Regions from separate parts of the Homo sapiens genome. Here region 2 is linked to region 1. The links come from fine-mapping of genetic effects on gene expression. Tissue or cell type: whole blood. Region 1 holds a variant in brackets; the other region holds the start of a gene. All regions are shown on one strand. Distances are from middle to middle.

Region 1 (8,103 bases):
GTATTTTCACTCTGAGACTATTACATGTATAACGTGAAAAGACAAATGAGATAGATCAGGATGTTCTAATTCTTCTTCTGTATCCCTAAGACCCTGCATTCTCTGTGTGAAAGAAAGGAGATGGAGATGTAATTAATATTAAAGAGGTTAGGTAAATACAGGCATACCTCATTTTATTGCACTTCACAGATATTGTGGTGGTGTTTTTGTTTTGTTTTTTTTTTTAAACAAATTGAAGCTTTTTATCAACCCTAAGGCAAGTCTATCTGCACCATTTTTCCAACAGCGTATGTTCACTGTCTCTGTGTCACATTTTGGCAATTCTTGCAGGATTTCAAACTTTTTTGTTATTACTGTATCTGTTACAGTGATCAGTAATGTCTGATGTTACTACTGTAATTGTTTCGGGGCACTATGAACTGCACTCATATAAGACAGTGAACTTCATCGATAAACGCTGTGTGTTTTCTCATTGCTCCACCACCTGCTCTTCCTGTATTCCTGTCTCTTCCTCTCCTTGGGCCTCCCTATTATCTGAGACATAACAACATTGAAATTAGGCCAATTAATAACCCTAAATGACCTTTAAGTGTTTGGGTGAAAGGAAGAGTTGCACATTTCTCACTTTAAATAAAAAATTAGAAATGATTAAGCTTAGTGAGGAAGCCATGTTGAAAGCTGAAACAGGCCAAAAGCTAAGCGCCTCTTAAGCCAGTTAGCCAAGTTGTGAATGCAAAAGAAAAGTTCAGGAAATTAAAAGTGCTACTCCAGTGAACACATGAATGATAAAAAAGCAAAAACAGCCTTGTTTTAGTGGTCTGGATAGAAATACAAACCAGCCACAAGATTCCCTTAAGCCAAAGCCTAATCCAGAGCAAAGTCCTAACTCTCTTCAATTCCATGGAGGCTGACAGAGGTGAAGAAGCTGCAGAAGAAAAGTTGGAAACTAGCAGAGGTTAGTTCATGAGGTTAACGAAAGACGCCATCTCCATTATATAAAAGTACAAGGGAAAGCAGCAAGTGCTGATGGAGAAGCTGCAGCAAGTTATCCGGAAGGTCTGGATAAGATCATTGATGAAGGTGGCTACACTAAACAACACATTTTCAGTGTAGATGAAACAGCCTTTTACTGAAAGAAGATGCCATCTAGAACTTTCATGGCTAGAGAGGAGAAGTCAATGCCTGGCTTCAAAGCTTCAAAAGATGAGCTGCCTGTCTTGTTAGAGGCTCACGCAGCTGGTGACTTTAAGTTGACGCCAATGCTCATTTACCGCACCAAAAATCCTAGGGCCCTTAAGAATTATGCTAAATCATTAGGAGATATACCTAATGCTAAATGATGAGTTAATGGGTGCAGCACACCAGCATGGCACATGTATACATATGTAACTAACCTGCACATTGTGCACATGTACCCTAAAACTTAAAGTATAATAATAATAAAATAAAAAATAAATAAATAAATAATTATGCTAAATCTACTCTATGTTCTAGAAATGGAAAAACAAAGCATGAATGACAGCACATCTGTTTACTGCATGGTTTACTGAATATTTTAAGCCCACCATTGAGAACCACCGATCAGGAAAAAAAAAGATTCCTTACAAAATATTACTGCTCACCAACAATGCACCTTATCACCCAAGACCTCTGATGAAAATGTACAAGGAGATTAACGTTGTTTTCACCTGCTAACATCAATTCTGCAGCCCTTGGAACAAGGAATCATTTTGACTTTCAAATCTTATTATTTAAGAAATACATTTCATAAGGCTACAGCTACCACTGATAGTGATTCCCCTGATGGATCTGGGCAAAGTGAATTAAAAACCTTCTGGGCTGGGCACGGTGGCTCACACCTTTGGGAGGCCAAGGCGGGCGGATCGCGAGATCAGGAGATGGAGACCATCCTGGCTAACATGGTGAAACTCCATCTCTATTAAAAATACAAAAAATTAGCCGGGCATGGTGGCACATGACTGTAGTCCCAGCTACTCGGAGGGCTGAGGCAGGAGAATCGCTTGAACCCAGGAGGCGGAGGTTGCAGTGAGCCGAGATCGTACCACTGCGCTCCAGCCTGGGCGACAGAGCGAGACTCCGTCTCAATTTAAAAAAAAAAAAAAAAAAAACCTTCTGGAAAGGATTCACCATTTTAGGTGACATTAAGAAAATTCATGATTCGTGGAAGGAGTTCTAAATATCAACATTTGAGGAGTTCAAGACTTTGGTGGAAGAAGTAACTGTAGATATGGTGGAAATAGAGAACTAGAGAATAAAAAGTGGAGCCTCAAGATGTGAGTGAATTGCTGCAATCTCATGATAAAACTTGAACAGATGAGGAGTTGTTCCTTATGGATAAGCAAAGAAAATGGTCTCTTGAGATGGAATGTACTCCTGGTAACGACGCTGTGAACACTGTTGAAATGACAACAAAACATTTAGAATATTACTTACATAAACTTAGTTGATAAGGCAGCAAAAGGGTTTGAGAGGACTGACTCCAATTTTGAAAGAAGTTCTATGGCAGGTAAAATGCTATCAAACAGCATCACATGCTACAGAGAAAGCTTTTGTGAGAGGCCAAGTCAATCAGTATGACAAACTTTATTGTCGTGGTCTCATCCAGCCCAACCTTCAGCAACCACCACCCTCATCAGTCAGCAGCCATCAACACTGAGGGGAAACCCTCCACAGCAAAAAGATTACACTCTCTTTGGTAATACAGTATTTTTAAATGTATATATATATATACATAATGCTACTGCATACTTAATAGATATAATTTTCCCTTAAAATAAACCAGGACTTCCGAAAGAAATGGCTTGGGCAGGGATGTCCAAAGTGAGCCTGAAACACCTCAACATATCACATAGCAAGGAATCTATCTATCAAAGACTCAAAGACTATGATGGTCATTTCAAAAGGACTCAGAAATCTTGAAGAGGTTTCAATGGGAAAAGGCGAGAAAGTCGGCTTTGAGATAAGAATTATAATGGATTGAACCCATCAAATATGTTCAAATCCATGACTTCAAAATGAAAGGAACGGGGAAAAAAAAACCCTAATTTGTCACCTTCTGAGGATGACAGAGAATCAATTCATTATCTTGAGAACTAGGTAAATAAAAGGAAAGAATCAAGCACTTATCCTGCTTTCCTAAATGAACTATACTATTTGGTAACTAAATAGTAAGTAAGTGAGGACATTATCTTATAAAATTTTACCAGCTAAAAATTGAAAACAAAATGACAGAATTTACTGTCACCATATTGCAACCCCTAGTGAATGACTGGATATAGGCACAGAATACACAAATGGAAAAAGGATGAAACCCAGACACTGTGACATCATGTGCTTCCTAGCGTATGGAAGAACATAATGCGAACAATATAGTCTAGCCAAAAGGACAGAACCTGAATCTGACCGCACTTCAGGTTCCAGCTGCCAATTTGCAGGAAATTCAGAGGACAGAGGAGCAAGCTGAACTGCAACATGAGGGTACAATCAGCAAAATCCAGATGGTTGAAAAGCACAGGTCAAAGGTCAGGGCTTCCGAATAGATAAATTGTAGGGAAAAGAAAATGATGAAGGAGGAATCTTTAGATTAAGACTTAAAAGACTACATATCAAGTTTTTAAAACTGGCAAGACCAATCTAGAGTCTAGAGGTATACACCTGAGTGATTACCACTACAAAGAAAGGCAAGGAAATGAGTATTACAAAAGTCAGGAGAGTGGTTACTTTGAGAGGGAGGAGGGATGTTGTGACTGGGATGGGGCACATGGAGAAGTCTGAGGAGGTTGGGAAAGTTCTACTTTTTGACATGGAAGGTGGTTTCATGGTGTTCGCTATGTCATAAATCACTTAACTCCCTGAGTCTGCTTTTTCACTTAACTATTTGGTGTGTTTTTCTGTTTTATAATACACACTATTTTTTTTAAAAGGATAACGTGACCAGTAATGCTAGAGACAGGGAGAGCCAGAGATGGATCAAACCTGCTTCTTCAAAAGAGGTTCAGACTCTCCGTTTAAGATTCTGGCATCAGAGTTAGGCGCAGTGGCTCGTGCCTGTAATCCCAGCACTTTGGGAGGCTGAGGCGGGGGGATCACTTGAGGTCAGGAGTTCGAGACCAGCCTGGCCAACATGATGAAACTCCGTTTCTACTAAAAACATAAAAATTAGCCAGGCATGGTGGCGCAGGGCTGTAATCCCAGCTACTCGGGAGGCTGAGGCAGGAGAATCACTTGAACCTGGGAGGTAGAGGTTGCAGTGAGCTGAGATCACGCCATTATACTCCAACCTGGGTGACAAAGTGAGACTCCATCCCAAAAAAAAAAAAAAAAATTCTGGCATCAGGTCTAAACGATATTCCTTTCTCTTAACAAAATGCGTCCATAGCCATTAAAATGATCAATTTAGCAAGGCACATTAAACAGAACAATTCCCTTTCACAGCAGCGTATTTCCTTAATATGCTTTAGCTGCCAAAATTATGAGATCACAGGAGGAGACATTCCCAGCCAAAAGCCCATGAGGAAAAGCGGGTAAATGTTTAAATGACACAGTTCAGGAATTAATTTGTATTTATGTAAAATAATTTTAATTAATAAAGCTTTCCAAACAATGTTTCAGTCCACAGCCAATAGAGAGGAAAATAAAAGTAGCATGGTTCTC[C/G]AATGCTGACACGTGCGAGACTACCTGACATGTGCGAGACTGCTTACAAATTAATTAGAGACCATCTTCCCTTATTTCAGGGGCAGCAAGTACTCCCATTTGTGTTTATGCCTAACCTTTTCAGCCTACTTTGGGCTAGCATTAAAAACTGATCCAAACCAATAATCACATTTTAAAGTTAAAAATCATAACTAAGGACAAGAAATCATATTAAAAAGTATTCCAAAGCCTTGTTTCACACATAACCTACTTTTGGAAACTAAAGGAGGGAATGTAAAGTACTTAATTCACCTTTCACGTTTTTTGTTTGTATATCTTTATGAAAAGGACTTTCTTAACCAGGGTCCACTGGACAGAACACAGTTCTGCCATTAGCTTGGAAACAAGCAATTGCAAAAACTCTTTTACCACCTGTGACATATCCCATTTTATCTGCATAACTTTGGCATCTTACGTCACTGTCTTGTACAGTCTGTGCCAGCAGTTTCAGTTTTTTCTCTCCTTTTGGGGCGAGGGGAAATTCATGTGGTCAAATGGCATTACAGAATTACTGAAAAGTCACTTTACTTTCCCTAAAATCTTCCAACAGAGAACATGTCAACTGTCAATAAGCACATACACAAACACACTCACAGAAAAGACTGTAATCCCAGCACTTTGGGAGGCCGAGGCAGGCGGATCACTTGAGGTCAGGAGTTCGAGACCAGCCTGGCCAACATGGTGAAACCTCGTCTCTATTAAAAATACAAAAATTAGCCAGGTGTGGTAGCAGATGCCTGTAATCCCAATTACTCGGGAGGCTGAGGCAGGAGAATCACTTGAACCCGGGAGGCGGAGGTTACAGTGAGCCGAGATCATGCCACTGCACTCCAGCCTGGGTGACAGAGCAAGACTCCATCTCAAAAAAAAAAAAGAAAAAGAAAGACACGGCAGACACTGCAGTACAACCTTTTTGATTTAAGGGCTTCTTGAAAGGATTATCTGTAATTAAACTTAAACGTAGTAAATTATTGTAAAATCCAACAGACAGTCAAAACTGCTATAACGTTCTGCTTTTCAAGCCTCTATACATACACACACACCCACACACATGCTTTTGAAAGCAGTAGGTGAGTCTCACTGGCCTGTGTGCACACAACACCCTGGGAGCTTACCATGACCGTGCAGTCCTCTGAACCGCTGGCAATGACCTGATCGTTATGTGGGCACCAGTCTATGTCCAGCACTGGTCCTGTGTGGCCACATACTGTAGGGTAAGATTTGTCAATTCGACCAGTCTGAAAGAAGAGAGAAACAAACCTATTATGTAATATCAACACCACAGACGTTATACATTTTCTCAGGCCCATTTCTCATTTATTACCTCCACCCAAAACTCTCAATTTTCTAGATATGACATCGTATAGTCAATATCAACTTTCACTTCTAGAAAAAGCCACTACCAAGGACATGCGATCAAATTACAAGAATCCAAATCCCTAGAACCAAAAAGATGTAACCAACTGCACTAGCAGACATAGCAAAAGAGAATATGAAAGTCTTTTTGCCAAAATACAATTCTAAATAGCCAAATTGTAAATTAAAAGGATGTTCCATGGCTTAAAAAAAAAAAAAAAAAAACCCTAAACCTTGGTATTATTCAAAATGTTAATACAATAAGACAATATCCTCCAATATATAAATTACCAGTTCTGGAAATGAATGGCACTATTAAAATGTAAAGGCCGGGCGCGGTGGCTCACGCCTATAATCCCAGCACTTTGGGAGGCTGAGGCAGGTGGATCATGAGGTCAGGAGATCCTGGCCAACAAGGTGAAACCCCACCTCTACTAAAAATACAAAAATTAGCTGGTCGTGGTGGTGTGCGCCTGTAGTCCCAGCTACTTGGGAGGCTGAGGCAGGAGTATCGCTTGAACCCGGTAGGCAGAGGTTGCAGTGAGCCGAGATCGTGCCACTACACTCCAGCCTGGCGACAGAGAGAGACTCTGTCTCAAAAAAAAAAAAAAAAAAAAGAAACAAGAAAAAAGAAAAAAAAAAAGAAATTTAAAAAGTTAAAAAAAAAAAAAAAAGAAAAGCTTTAGCTATCATTAGGGCCTAAAGAGCCTACTACATTGTAATGTCTCAGTCTCTCTGCTATCCTCAATCAACAGAAATGCCAGCCAGACAATCTAGTTAACACCAACTTAGACCTCACCCATTAGCCAGTTCCACATCTGATTAAGAATAAAATGCTTAATGTTGGTCATAAATAGCTACCACAATTTGCTCATGTCACACATTTGAATCTAGCAAACCAACCAGGGTTATCAGACCAATTTTGTGTCAACTAAGACAACTGCTATTGTTAACAATGGGTATATGAAAGTGGTTTCCTTTTTAAAATAGCTTAATGCCAGTCCACGCTGAAGCTGTGTATGCTTTAAGAGCAGGTGCACAGAAAGGAACCACTGCAATGTATGGCTTAATCTATTTTTTGTTGTTTTTGCTCTTATATGGCAAATCATCCCAACACTGGAGCAGGCTTCTTAGCAATTTTTCAAGAACAGAAATTTCTATGATTTCTCCAATTTGACTTGACTGTGCAAATCTCCAGGAAAGCAGAACGTTAACGTGTAAAGACCACAGGCTCTGGAATAAGACAGGTAAGGGTTCAAATCCAGGCTCTACTGATTAAACAGGTGACTTTAGACAAGTCATGTAATCTCTCTAAGCTTCACCTCATTCGTCATCTGTAAAATAGTTAACAATGATACTTATTAACTCCCACAATTACCGTAAGGATTAAATGAGAGAACACTTTTAGATAAATCACAATTCAGTATTACAATTATCTGTAAAATAAGTAAAAAAATTAACCACAGTATCTGGAATAAAATATCCAATAAAAGCTGTCACATTATTAGTTCTTCTAGTACAATAATTTACTCCATCATTAAGAATTAACAAATATGTGTTGTGAACTTTTATGGACCAGACATTGTGCTGAGTGCTGGAGATACAGACGTGAACAAGGCAGTCCTGTCCTGGCTAAATGTGGAGCCCAGTGAGAGGAGAGAGACATTTAAACAGCCAATTATGGTGCCACATAGGAACAGAGAAGGAAGACATTCAAGCAGGTTTGTGGGGTCACAGTCTCTGGAGAGGTTTTCTTCTGGGAAAGGTAAGTTCTAAGTTGAGGCCTGAATATGGCCCTGTTTACAGACCTAAGGCCTAGGTTTCTTCACATTCCTCCACTTTCCCTTGCAACCCAGTTTGGATCTTCCAAAACGCATCACCAAAAAAGGACTTCAAAAAAGGAAATTCCAATGAACACCATATCATATAGAATCTGGGTGTCACAGGAAGGAGCCACACAGTTCATTTACAGGCAGCGAAGTATAAATGGTTGAGAACCAGACTGCCCAGAGTGTAGTCATGGTTCTGCCATCT
Region 2 (8,098 bases), 55 kb after region 1:
GAAATCATCAAAATTTAAAATCTTTGTTCCTAAAAAGGGGCACCATCAAGAAAATGAAAGGACATGTCAGAATCCAAGAAAATTTTTGCAAATCATACAGCTGATAAGGCACTTGAATCTAGAATACATGAACAACTTTTATAACACCAATAAAAAGACAACCCATTAAAAAACGGGCAGAGCATTTGAATGGACATTTCTCCAAAGATTACACATACAAATGTTCACCAACCACATGAAAAGATGCTCAACATCATTAGCCATTAGGGAAACACAGATGACTAGAATCAAAAAGTCAGAGAGTAACAAGTGTTGGCAAGAATGTGGAGAATTTAGAACCTTCATATACTCTTGGTGAATACCGTAAAATGGTGCAGCTGCTTTGGAGAAGTCTGGCCATTCCTCCAATAGTTAAATATAGAGTTACCATACAACCCATCGATTACATTCCTAGGTAAATACTCAGGAGAAATGAAAACGTATGTTCACAGCATTATTCATAATAGCCAAAAAGGAAAAACACCCAAATGTTCATCAACTGATGAATGGATAAACAAAATACGGCATATCCAAACAATGGAATATTATTTGACCATTAAAAAAAAAAAATGAAGTACTATACAATACTACCACACATATAAACCTTGAAAATATGCTAAATAAGGGCAAGACACAAAAGACCACATAGTGTATGATTCCATTTACATGAAACGGGAGGACTTCTAAGGGGTATGGGGTTTCTTTTTGGGGGGGATGAAAATGTTCTAAAATTGACTGTGGTGACAGCTGCACAACTCTGTGAATATACCAAAAACCACAGAACTGTACACTTTAAACGGGTGAACTGTACAGTATGTCTCAATGAAGCTGTTATAAAACAAAAAAAGTTCCATTCTGCACTCTAGAAATACAAAGTACTCAGAAAGGAGTACAGAATCTTGTTCACTCACTTTAAAGGATCTGAACTAGGGCAAAGAAAACCCAGAGAGATTCTATTACTTAACATTCTAGGTACTAGGTCATACTGAAATATTCATGAAGAATTCTGTTTTAATACAGAAAAGGTATCTTAAGTTTAAAAAGACATACAAGTGTCAGAAAAGAGTTTTCATAATTCAAGGAGACAGTAACACAGAGAAGTCATAAATGGAAAACAAGCTTAAGAGGTTTTATCACATGGATTTGTACCTTGAAAATGCAAGTAGCTCTCAAATTTATTATTGCCCCACCCCTGGAAAAGAGGTCAAAGGTAAAACAGACCAATTAATAATATGTTTCTAAAGTACCAGTTTGTGACAAATCAAAATATGAGAAATTAAAATTTTGCCATCATAAAGAAGAGACTCGTCGACATACCCACTTATATAACTAAGAATTGATATTCATCCTTTTGAACATTCCATCTCATAGTCGTTAGAGTGACTCTCTTCCTCATGGTTGGAGTGGATCCCAGAAGTGACAGATAAGTTAAACATAAAACTTTTATCAAAAAATCCAACGGTGTTTAAAAAAATGCTATTCACTGACACCGAATCTAATCCTAAACTATATATAAATAAGTATAAATGCTGATTAGCACAATCTGCAGGCAAAGTAACAAAGGATCATGAAAAAGTCAATATTGTGTGCAGTTATGTTTCATCGGTATGTATCTATTAAAATTCATCAGGCTTTAATGTACCTTCCACAAGTAATCAAAATAAATATGGACAAGATAGGTTCTATATTTGTCAAAAATGTGTGCTCCTGACGTTTATACCAAATCTTTGTCCAATCCTCAGTACACACGACTAACCTCCACCACGAAACACTGCACTTCAAGACCTAAGGTACAACACAATTCTCAGTTTTATTTCACTTTTTTCCCTACTTATTTATGCGATTTCTCAGATCCAATGTTTACTATTATGCTTCATAGCCAAACATTATGACTGTGAAACATACCTCCAAACCAAAAATACTAGTTTCCTTAAATCATCTGAAATGTATAGAACCAAGTCCAAAATAGATTTTGCACATTTCTTCAGTTTTACAGGGAATGCAGAAAGTGAATTAATATTAAACAGGTATCTATTTGCCTTCACAACTGAACAGACGGTACAAAGCAACTGCTTATACTTAATCATGTTTCTGTCTATTCCAGCAGGCCCTGGTGTCAGGAGAACGTTCTGCCAGATAAGGACAATGAGATGCATTATTATATAGAGTGACTAAGAGCCCTACAAGTACTGTTTTAGAATGTAATCCCAGGCAGAAAGGCTGCGGTAAGAGGGCCTAATATTTTGTGGTAACTATTTCCAAAAGTAAATATATTCGCCACCCAGGACCAGTTTATTAAACGCGCACTACATTCAATTCTTTTCAAATGTCTTATAGGAGGGAAAAGCCTTTGTATCTTACCATGCCGGGGGAAATGAACAACTTGCAATTTGCTTCGCACTCTGAATCCCACGTTTGCAACATGTAGAGCAAGCACTTTAGACACCACAAAACAAGGGCAGCCTACATTACGGCCAAATATAGGATGTGTTTCTAAATCGTGATGCAGTAAAGCCTACGATTCCTTTTCCAGCGTTCAAAATCCTTTGAACACTCCCAAAAAAGGATGCCAGGGCCAGCGCCTCCCTCCAAGAGGAAGCCCCTTTCTTCTCAGCTCTCACCGCAGCCTGCCACTTCCCCCAACACATTCAAATCATTTGAGAGACGGAGAGCTGGGGAGCGTGCGCCGGTGGGGACAGGCGGGAGAGCTCGGTTTCTGCATTCCCACCCTCCACGTCTGACCTCATCCTCAGTCATTTCGGCGCAGCGGGGCCCCACCTGCACCTCGCTCCTTTTTACTGCGTCCCTCGCCAGCTGCCCCGCTATTAGGGAAACACACCTCTGAATCACCCAGTTCACTCGGACACCCTGGGCCCCCGATCCGACAGCCTTCCTGCTTCGTTCCTCCCCTCCCAACCCCCAGCCAGTCCCAGCCCTCTGCTCCCTTGGCCGGGCTCAGCCTCTTCCCAAGCCGCCCCCACCCACATTACTCCAGCTCCAGCTCTGCCCCGCCCCGCCTGACCCCCAACCGAGATCTGCAGGGCCCAGAGCTGGTCTCGCACCCAAAGCCAGGAAACCCGCAGGCCAGGCGGCCGCCCTCGCCCCTCCCGACGCAGGGCCCAGCTCGCCCCGGCCCCACGTGAGCCCGGCCCCTACCCGCCCCCACCCACTCGTTCCCTGGGGCGGCCCAAACCCAGTCCCCAGGCCTGGAGCCCCCGGGCTCTACGCCTCGCCCGAAGCAGCCCTTCCCTCCCAGCACCTCGCCCAAGCAGGCGATCCCTGACCCCTAAAAGCCTTCCCTGGGCAGCCTCGTCCCACCTCGGCCCGCGGCTCCGCACCCGGCCAGGAGCGTTCCGGACCTCGAAAGCCTCCTCCCCACAGGGACCCTGCTTCACGCTCCCCACGCCACCTGGTTCGGTCCCCAACTCCCTTTCCCCGAGCCCCCGACAGCAGCCCCCGGCCCTAACCCCTTGCAACCCAGCCCGTGAACCCGCGCCCCGCGCGCCCACCCAGCACTGTCCCCTCCACCTAGCCCTGCCCCTCGCCCCGCCGGCTCCTGTCAGGCGGCGCAGGCACATGCTCAGAGGACAGGTCCGCCCGCCCGACTCGCTCTCAGGCTGCCCCCGCCGGGCGCGAGCCGCTCACCCGGGCCGAGGTGCCTGAGGCGCCGCCGCCGAAGTCCCCGCTGCAAAGCCGGGCGAAGCCTCCAACCGCTGCCGCCTCCAGCCTGGCACTGAGCGCCGTGCGGGGGAGGGGCGCGGGCAGCCGCCACCGCCCCCGCCACCGCGCGTAGGCCCCGCCCCCGCGCCGCGCGGGACCCAACCAGGGCTGCCGGGCCGCTGTGCGCCACGCCCACTTCCGGAGGGGAAGCCCGCTTCCCACCCCACGTTCCACGCCTCGCTACGCCCCCTCTGGTCGCACCGAGGGATGCAGGCGGTGCCCAAGCGCACGCCCCGCTCTCCAGTCATCTGAGTGGTAGAGGGCCACGCCCACAGGCGCCTCCGAGCAACGCCCACTGCTCCTTAGACCCCGGAGCGGGGTTCTTAGAGCCCCGCCCACTGACCCGCTAGGCTCTGCAAGGCCACGTCCCCTGGCTCCTCAAAGATTCCCCCAGAGCCCCTCAATACAGGAACATTAGCTCCTCTGAGCCCCGCGCACTGCCTATCCGAGTCCTTAAACCAGCCTCCTGCTTCCCTAAGCCCGGCTCCCCTCCCACTGCTTCAGAACTCGCCCAGCGGCCTCACAAAGCCCCGCCCCGTCTTCCAGAAGCCCCGCCCAAGGACCGCAACCCTATTCCTAGCATCTCAAGCCCCGCCCACTACCCCATCTCAACGTTTAAACCCCAAGCCCCGCCCCGAATTCGCGAATCCACGCCTCTGGCTCCCGAGGCTCCGCCCTGGCTCCGTCACACCCTACCACCACCTCCCTTGAGGACTGCCGACGTTCCAGCCCTCCCTGAACCGTCCATTGTCACATTCCTAGTGCAGAGTGGCCGCCCCTGGGCTGGGCCACACCCACGTAACCCCAAAGAGGGCCCGTGATTGACCCCATTTCGCAGGTGAGGGAATGGAAACTTCAGGGTTCCTCCCTTCCTTTCCCTGGCCAGAGTCCCTTAATAACTCGGCGGCCCAGGCCTGAAAGTCGGAGCACGGGAATTTGAGCCTCAGCTCTGCGGCCGTCAGACTGTGTGACCTGGGACAGTTCTCTTACCTCTTTGGGCCTGAGTCCCCTAATCTTCAGCATGAAGAAGTTGTCCTGTTAATAGCTAAAGTCCCTTTCTGAAACACCAAGCTCTGAAATACCGAGATTTGAGGAAACAGAGCCTGGGGAACCGAACCGACTGTGGGGTAGGGCTATTTACTTCCCAAAGCAAGGCATCTTTGCCATTCACAGGGGGATTTTTTATTTTAAGCGTCAGCCTCAGAAACGTGTGTTATTTAAATCAAGCTTGACCTGAACTAAGACAGCTATCACAGCAAATTATTTATCCTCTCTAAGGGTCAGTTTCTTTATCTGTAAAATGGGGATAACAGCCCCTCCCTCACAGGGTTCCATGAGATCATATTAGCAGCCATGATCGTGGCATTACTTTTTGCCATTAAAAGGAATGGCAAAAACCGCGATTACTTTTGCACCAGGATAATAGTAATATACTTAGAAGAGTTCCTGGCTTGTGATAAACGCTCGACAGTACCTGTTGCTGCTACTGCTGGGACTCAACAAAATGAAAGGATGGGTTTTATTTTGCCTTCAAGCAGCCACTCCTAATAGGAGGAATTCAGCACCCTTCCTGCAGTAAGATTTGCCACTCACTTTATTTAAATGAGATAAACGTGATGAAACGCCTACTGCAGTGCCTGCCATATGGTGAGGCTCAAAAACAATTCACTTGTTTTTGTTTGTTTGAGACACAGTCTTGCTCTGTCGCTCAGGCTGGAGTGCAGTGGGGCAGTCCACGGCTCACTGCAGCATGGACCTCCCGGGCTCAAGTAATCCTCCCACCTCAGCCTCCCACGTAGCTGAGACTACAGGCACGCGCCACCATGCCCAGCTAAATTCTTAACATTTTTCTGTAGAGATGAAGTCCTGCTATGTTGCCCAGGCTGGCCTCAAACTCCTGAGCTCAAGAGATCCTCCCACCTCGGCCTCCCAAAGTGTTGGGATTACAGGTATGAGCCACTGTGCCCACAATTCAATAGTTTTGAACAATAAAAGTTGTTTTTTTAAAATCCACTAGTTAATAAATTAAACAGGGGCATTGATAGCAGTGAGTTCTGAGTGCTTTGGGGAAAATGAAGATTGGTAAAGTGCTTTGAGTTCCTTTTTTTTTGAGACGGAGTCTTGCTCTGTCGCCCAGGCTGGAGTACAGTGGCGCGATCTCAGCTCACTGCAAGCTCCGCCTCCCAGGTTCACGCCATTCTCCTGCCTCAGCCTCCCGAGTAGCTGGGACTACAGGCACCCGCCACCACGCCCGGCTTATTTTTTGTATTTTTAGTAGAGACGGGGTTTCACCATGTTAGCCAGGATGGTCTCGATCTCCTGACCTTGTAATCCACCCGCCTCGGCCTCCCAAAGTGCTGGGATTACAGGCGTGAGCCACCGCGTCCGGCCGAGTTCCAACTGGAAACCACGGAGTAAGCTAGCTTATTCTTTGGAAACAGATTATTGCTAACATTTATCCATCACTTAGACATGCTAGGCACTATCTGAGTGCTTTACATGCAGAATCTTCTGAAATTGCTCAACAATCCTATGGCCACAGAAATAATTCTTTTTTTTTTTTCTTTTTGAGACGGGGTCTCACTCTTTTGCCCAGGCTGGAGAGCAGTGGCTCCATCTGGCTCACTGCAGCCTCGAACTACCAGGCTCAAGCAATCCTTCCACCTCAGCCTTCCAAGCAGCTAAAACTGCAGGTGCACACCACTTTGCTCACTAATATTTTTACTTTTTGTACAGATGGGGTCTTGTTTTGTTGCCCAGGCTAGTCTCAAATTCCTGGCCTCCCAAAGGTGTTGAAATTACAAGCATGAGCCACCACACCCAGCCCAGAAGGGACTCCTAATCCCCACCTATAAAGGTGAGGAAACTGAAGACTCAGAGAAGTTAAATTCCTTGTCCAAGTCACATGGCTTGAACCACGTAGAACCCACATCCATCTAAATGCAGAGCCTGCACCCTTAGCCAGTTAGTCATTACACTAAACTGCCTCTGTGGCAGCATGACAGAACAGAAAAACCGTGGACTTTGGATTCTGGCCGGTTTAGGTTTAAATTCAGGCTCCACCTATTACTCATTGTGTGACGTTCAGCAAGTCACTTCCCCTCTGAGCTGAGCCCTATTCTTCTGCCTATATATCACTGGGAATCATGTAAATGCTTCAGGAAGTGGTTTTGAATATTCAGGAGTTTAGATTCAATGAATTAGGACGTGGCAAAGCACCCAACACAGTGCCCAGCACAAAATAGTTGTTTTAAAACATGTTGATGTTTAAAAATCACAGGGTTCCGGCCAGGAGTGGTGGCTCACACCTGTAATCCCAGCACTTGGGAGGCTGAGGCAGGCGGATTGTTTGAGGTCAGGAGTTCGAGACCAGCCTGGGCAATATGATGAAACCCCGTCTCTACTAAAAATACAAAAATTAGCCAGGCATGGTGGCACGCGTCTGTAATCCCAGCTACTTGGGAGGCTGAGGCAGAAGAATTGCTTGAACTCGAGTTTGGAGGTGGAGGTTGCAGTAAGCCTAGATAGCGCCACTGCACTCCAGCCTGGGCGAGAGTGAGACTCTGAAAAAAAAAATAGAAATAAATAAAAATAAAAAAATCTTGGGGTTCCATGAGATCATAGATAAATGATGAAGTTAGAAGTGATGAAATGATAATGATGAAATTAGAAGAATTCCCCCCGCCAGATGATACCGCCAAAAAGCAGCCATGGAATATGCTACGAAAGATCCCAAGGCCTTCATCTTCTGACTGCCTCTTTCAGTTCCTGGTTTGAGCCCTGCATTTGAGGAGGTGATTCTTGCACAGGAAGCACCCAATGCCAGAAGCAATGCCACCTCACTTTCACTCCATGCCTATCCCAAATGTGGTCAGCTGAGAGCTGCTTACTTCCAGAAACAGGAAAACTGCATAACTCTGCTGGGAGAAAGCCCCATCATCTCATTGTTCTTGAACCTACAGCAATTGCTTTGTGGGCCTGAAAGAAACCTTGGCTCTGTCCAAGCTGGCCCTAAAGGGAGGGATCCAAGTCCAGGTGAGATGCTGGATTTAAGAGTTTTTTCCTGCTCTCAAAAGCTGGTGATTTCTAAAGTGGCTTAAGACAGGTGCTAGATGGAGAGGAATTTAATGATCAGGAAAAATAAAAATGATTCCAGACCACACATGATATAGATGCCAGCTTATGTATGAAGTGGAAAGAACTGTGGGCCCAGCATCCAGAGGCTCCTTAGCAAATCATTTTTCTATTTTTTCTGAGTACCAAATGGGGACATTTGTTTTAGGTTGCTAGGGCAACCTAGAAGCTCAGTGAATTACCCTGTGGAAGCATTAACAAATAA

The links. PIP is the estimated chance that this variant, and not a neighbour inherited with it, causes the effect.
Region 2: it holds the start of CORO1C, and the variant in region 1 is fine-mapped to the expression of CORO1C in whole blood (INTERVAL, PIP above 0.99).

The regions. Positions count from the first base shown.
Region 1 is chr12:108,672,444-108,680,546 of GRCh38, forward strand. CORO1C (coronin 1C) reads right to left here. Exons shown (of 11, transcript NM_014325.4): 3 at 5,829-5,951. Among named protein-coding and RNA genes, the nearest start is that of MIR4496, 41 kb to the left of the region's middle. The variant C/G (reference allele first, on the strand shown) is at 4,675.
Region 2 is chr12:108,727,745-108,735,842 of GRCh38, forward strand. It overlaps CORO1C (coronin 1C), which reads right to left and starts at 3,774. Exons shown (of 11, transcript NM_014325.4): 1 at 3,685-3,774. It overlaps LOC105369969 (a long non-coding RNA gene), which reads left to right and starts at 5,665. Exons shown (of 3, transcript XR_945328.4): 1 at 5,665-5,708. RefSeq lists silencers at 3,053-3,332, 3,523-4,032 and enhancers at 3,645-4,448, 6,857-7,358.